Linked DNA regions of Homo sapiens: region 2 is linked to region 1. The links come from fine-mapping of genetic effects on gene expression. A gene starts in region 1. The other region holds a variant in brackets. All regions are shown on one strand. Distances are from middle to middle.

Region 1 (2,908 bases):
AATCATTAAAATCCACTAAAATCAATTGTGAACAGCCACTGCCTCAGGGGTGACCGTGGGGCCCCCTAAGATGTGGCACTGTGATCTATATTTAGCTATCTAAACACGTTTACAGAACTGGCAACAACGTGTTCGCAGGACTTCCTGCGAACCACCCGGCAGATAACGCGACACTAGTTAAAGGGTGTTAATTTTCCGGTCCTCGGAGGGCAGGCCACGGTAGCCGATCTCTGCGTGCCCAGAACTGCCTGCAGGATCAGGCAGCAGCAGCGGCGGCGGCGGCCACCGAGGCTACCAGCCGCCCGCAGCAGGGGCGGGAGCGCGCGCCTCCCGCACCCGCGCCACCCGGCTCCACTCGGGCCGCAGCTGCAAAAGCAGCGACAGCGCGCGCTCCCGCGCGTCCTCCAGATCACCTTCAAGGGGGCGGGAAGAATGGCCCAGGGCAGGCCCACCTAGTGACAATAAAAACTCGCCAATAAAAACTCGAACTCTCCCTCGGGTACCGCCCACAAGCTGCCGCAGGCGCCCAATCCCCGCCGCGTTAACAGTCTTCACCCGGGGTGTCCAGAACTTGAGGGCGGGTCCATTAGGAACTAAATTAAGAAACTGAGTCCTGGAGTGGTAAGAAGGTGGGGAGGTTAGGCGGGGACTGCGCCGGCGGAACGCCCGCTCCCCCGCCCGCCCCGGCTCCCCGGGGACGGCCGCAGCGGGCCGGGTGTCGCGATCGTGGTAAACAAAGGCTCGCAGGGGACGGGGGCGGGGGTAACGGTCAGGTGACAGTGCCGAGTGCATTTCGCAATCGCTTTAATGGGGCTTCACGGGCCCGCGGCCCTGGGGACCCCACCTTGACCCCGTCATTCCTCCCGGACAGAACCGACGGTCGTCCCACCAAACAAGAAGGCTGGATTTGAGGCGGTCGCACTCCCCCGGGCTTCCTGAAATAAAAAGCAGCGCCCCGTTCGCAGCCCATCGGCAACAAGCAGCACCCGTCTGCCCAGCCGCCTCCCCCGGCGGCGCCCGGCCCCGCGGCGACTAGCCTACCGCACCTGCGGCTACCCCCAGTCCCGGCAACCACCCCGCCCTAGCCAGGCCGCACCAGCCGCGCCGCGGTTCCGGGCCGTAGTGCCAGGAGGCGCGCGCGCCCTCCCTCAGGGCTGTAGCTACCAAGCGGGGGAGGAAGACCCCCCAGGTGAACCCTGGAGGCCCCTCGCCTCAGAAAGGGGCCCTGTAGCCCAGCTGCAGCCTCTCCGCAGACCGCCAGTCTGGCTCTGAGAGGCCGGCCGCCGCTGGCTGCCCTCCCGCAGACACCCCGGTGGTCAGGACCGCCGTCGCCCCTCCGCCCCCGAGGACTCAGACTCTGACCGGTTCCTCGCCTTTCGGCCGGTCCCGGAGCTGTCACCCCCGGTACCTCTCGGCGAACACTGGAAGCAGCCAGCAGTGGCTAACCCCGCGGTCCCTCAGCGGCGGGCGGCGCAGCGCACTCTCCAGCGCCGGCGTCTCCTCCAGCCACCAGTCTCTGCCGCAGCTCACAACAAAGGAAACATGTGACCGTCCGGGCCAAAACACTGAGCGTCAGCGAACCCTGGCCAATCCGGGTGGGCGTCCTCCGCCCCGGGGAACCCTGGGAGATGTAGTTCACGCTTCCCGGTGGCCTCCGGGGCCACCTGGGGCTCCCGCCGTGGGGTGGGTGTCGGGTGCCCAAGAGGACGAGACCCACCCAAAGGGCTGCTGACTCAAAAACACCTTGTTTTAAGCAGAGACAGTTAAAAAAATGCCTCTTGTGTAAGGAGCCGAGTGAGAAGCCAGAGTCGTTTCTTTCCTTCCCTCAAAGGCCCCTGCCACGTCCCAAGGAAAAAGCCCGCGATCAGCCCTTCGACTTTAAAGCTTGGGTCGAAGCTTAGAGAGCTTTTTATTTGACCCTTTGATAGACAATCGGAAATCAGGCCTGAGGGCCTGCAGGGTGGACGAGACTAAAACCCCAGTCCTTAGAAGGAGCAAGGAAAACCACCTCTTTTTTTTTGATAAAGCTGTTACTGTCCCTGGTATCAAATCCTAGGTTACCTTTTTATTTTAAACGCACATGCACGTCGACCAAAGCTGTCACAAATCCCTGTTTTCCAAGGTAGATGGAGTTCCTAAAGGACATTGTGTTGTCGTTTTGTGTCTGCAAGCTTTTTGTTTTGTTTCGTTTTGAGACAGAGTTTCGCTCTGCCACTCAGGGTGGAGTGCAGTGGCGCAATCTCGGCCCACTGCAACCTCTGCCTCCCGGGTTCAGGCGATTCTCCCGCCTTAGCCTCCCGAGTAGCTGAGACTACAGGTGCCCGCCACCACGCCCAGGTAATGTTTTGTATTTTTAGTAGAGGCTGTGTTAGCCAGGCTGGTCTCGAACTTCTGGCCTCAAGTGATCCGCCTGCCTTGGCCTCCCACAGTGCTAGGATTACAGGCATGAGCCACTGCGCCCCGCCTGCAGGTATTCTTTTAAAGGATGATTGCAACCATTTAACTAGTTTTTGGTTTCTGATACCAAATTTAAAAATCTCTATCTTCTACATGTCATGAATACCGTCATGCCTCTATTAAATTAGGCGTTGTGTTCTGATGACCAGAGGCGGAAATAATATGGAAGGCCTATATACAGGCCTTTTAAACATACTTTTTAGGCCTCTTTTCCATCTCTTATTCAATTATTTGAGCTATTTCTTCTGGTATTTATATATTTCCAAATAATGTATGACTATTTCCTATTAAGGAAGCTATCCTTCTCATAATCTGGTTAAATCATTAATGTTTACGCTAATGAGACCATGTATTTATTATTCATTGTTGAGACAAATCGTATACAATTTCCCATCTTGTATGGCTTTTGGTTTTCCTTGGAGTTTTAATAATTATCCTCTTTCTTTGCTTA
Region 2 (2,908 bases), 33 kb before region 1:
GGCTGGTCTCTAACTCTCGGCCTCAAGCCATTCTCCCACTCTCAAGCCATCCTCCTGCCTCAGCCTCCCAAAGTGTTGGGATTACAGGCGTGAGCCATCACGCCCAGCTCACATTTCTCTTAATGGACTGTCATCATTAACTCTTCCCTCCATAGCTAATTAACTATTAAGTCCCACTGAGTCTTCTTCCACAGCATCTTTCACATATACCCCTTCCTTTACGTTTCCCGCTGCCATCACCCACTTGAGGGTCCACAACATTTCATTCCTCTCAAATAACCTCCTGGCCTCCACTCTTGTTCTCTCTAAACCACAGATTATTCTTCCTAAAATACTTTATCAGTTCCTCTTAATATTTCAACAATGAATGTCTAAGGGTCAAGGCCACATTTCATAACTTGTCCTTCAAATTTGTCCACAATTTATCTTTCTGTGCACCCCCAAATTTCCACAGTACTCAATGCCACTTCTATCATGCATTTCTCACATTATGTTAAAATAATCTGTTGGTGAGTTTGTGTCCCCAACACTATGCAGCTCAGACAGGTTAAGTAACTTACAAAAGTCCACACAGCTATATGGAGTATGGAACCTGTGGCACGATGTAGCAATTAAGGGCACAGGCTTTGATCACCAGCTCTGCCATCCAATGTAAGGGCAATTTATCTACCCTTTTGGAGACTCAAATTTATTTCCTCAATTTTATAATTTTTTTTTTGAGGCGGAGTTTCGCTCTTGTTGCCCAGGCTGGAGTGCAATGGCGTGATCTCAGCTCACTGCAATGTCTGCCTCCTGGCTTCAAGGGATTCTCCTGCCTCAGCCTCCTGAGTAGCTGGGATTACAGGTGCCCGCCACCATGCTTGGCTATATTTCCTCAATTTTAAAATGTAGACAATCATAGTATCTATCACATGGCATAATTTTGAGGATTAAACTTTAATACGTATTCCTACATGTGTAAATTAAAATATAATACATGCCATGAGCATCAAGACAAAAGGCCTCTAGATTAAGAAAAGTCTGAGCTTTTGCCTCTGCTTTATCATTTTTTGTGTAATCTTGGGAAGTGACTTGATCTCTTTGGGGTTATTTATAAGATGACCAAGTTATATTAAATATTCTCCATTATTCCATCATCCCTTCCTACTCTAAGATTTTTTTCCTTTTCTTTTTTTTGACAGAGTCTCACTCTGTCACCGGGCTGGAGTGCAGCAGGCAGCTCACTGCAGCCTCTGCCTCTCAGGCTCAAGTGATTCTCCTGCCTCAGCCTCCCAAGTAGCCGGGATTACAGGTGTCCGCC[A/G]CTATGCCCAGCTAATTTTTTGTATTTTTGTAGAGACAGGGTTTCACCATGTTGGCCAGGCTGGTCTTGAACTCCTGACCTTGTGATTTGCCTGCCTCGGCCTCCCAAAGTGCTGGGATTACAGGCGTGAGCCACCGCACCCGGTAATTTTTTATTTTTTCTTGAGGATTGCAGCCTAAGACACACTTCTAAGTTACACTGGGGAGTGCTCCCCTAAGATTCTATATTCTAAACCATCCCAGGTTTCCTTAAACAGAGTATTTATAAATTTAAGTATGTTTTATAAGCTTGAATTAAATCTATATTGTAATTTTAGCAAAATGACTTCCATGAATTGAGTACTTGCTGTGTAAGGTAGGAATGATTCCTTTTCTTTATTGATTTAGTGCTTCTAAGCTTTGGGTATCTTCAAGTCAAGTACACTATTTTGTCAAATAAATTTGAGTTTACCAATACATACATGGTTTTTGAGACATCAGTACTTTTCATTTGCCTTTGTATCAGCATCTCCTTCCAACCCCTGGATTATTTTAGCCCCTCTTTTCCAGTAATATTTTGTCCTTCTTGAGGCACAGCCTCAAACACTATATATAATATAGTAAGTACTAACAAACCAAATGGTTTTAGAAAAGATTCTATTAATATTTTATTTCCAGTAAATCTGTCTCAAGGTCCTCATTATTTCATTGGCCTTGTAGACAGCAGCAGCACACTAGATCCAGGTCGTTAGGAATTAACAGCTTTTAAACTGTGTTTTGAGCTGGGCATGGTGGCTCATGCCTGTAATCTCAGCACTTCGGGAGGCTGAAGCAAGAGGATGGCTTGAACCCAGGAGTTTGAAACCAGCCCAGGCAACAGGATAAAACATTATCTCCACAAAAAATACCAAAATTAGGTGTGATGGTGTGTGCCTGCAGTCTTAGCTACTAGGGAGGCTGAGGTAGAAGGATCACTTGAGCCCAGGATGTCCAGGCTGCAGTGAGCCATGACTGTGCTGCTGCACTACAGCCTCAGCAACACAGCAAGACCCTATCTCAAAAAATAAAAATATATAAACTGTTTTGAGAAGCTCTAGTATTCTACGCAGCAGTCCCCAACCTTTTTGGCACCAGGGAGCGGTTTAATGGAAGACAATTTTCCCACAGGTCTGGGTGGGGGGCTGGTGGGGGACTGGTCGGGGATGGGATGGTTTGGGGATGTAACTGTTCCACCTCAGATCATCAGGCATTAGATTCTCATAAGCAGCCACAACCTAGATATCCCTCATATGTGCTGTCCATGCTCCTATGAGAACCTAATGTGCGCTGATCTGACAGGAGGTGGAGTTGAGGCGGTAAAGCTCGCTCAGTGGCTGCTCACCTACTGCTGTGCAATTAGATTCCTAACAGAACGCTGACTGCAGTGGCAAAATCTTGGCTCACTGCAAACTCCGCCAGAAGCGATTCTTCTGCCTCAGCCTCCCGAGTAGCTGGGACTACCGGTGCGGACCACCATGCCCGGCTAATTTGTGTATTTTTAGTAGACAGGGTTTCACCATGTTGGCCAGGATGGTCTCGATCTCTTGACCTCGTGATCCACCTACCTTGGCCTCCCAAAGTGCTGGGATTA

What was found. PIP is the estimated chance that this variant, and not a neighbour inherited with it, causes the effect.
Region 2: its variant is the best candidate, but not a certain one, in a credible set for the expression of KLHL24 in blood mononuclear cells (TOPMed, PIP 0.55).

The regions. Positions count from the first base shown.
Region 1 is chr3:183,634,248-183,637,155 of GRCh38, reverse strand. KLHL24 (kelch like family member 24) reads right to left here and starts at 1,533. Exons shown (of 8, transcript NM_017644.3): 1 at 1,363-1,533. It overlaps LOC107986162 (a long non-coding RNA gene), which reads left to right and starts at 547. Exons shown (of 2, transcript XR_001741042.2): 1 at 547-621; 2 at 872-2,908. RefSeq lists silencers at 128-457, 508-827, 1,018-1,087, 1,098-1,207 and an enhancer at 1,628-1,687.
Region 2 is chr3:183,667,163-183,670,070 of GRCh38, reverse strand. All of the region lies in intron 5 of KLHL24 (kelch like family member 24), which reads right to left. Among named protein-coding and RNA genes, the nearest start is that of YEATS2, 29 kb to the left of the region's middle. RefSeq lists an enhancer at 2,849-2,908. The variant A/G (reference allele first, on the strand shown) is at 1,301.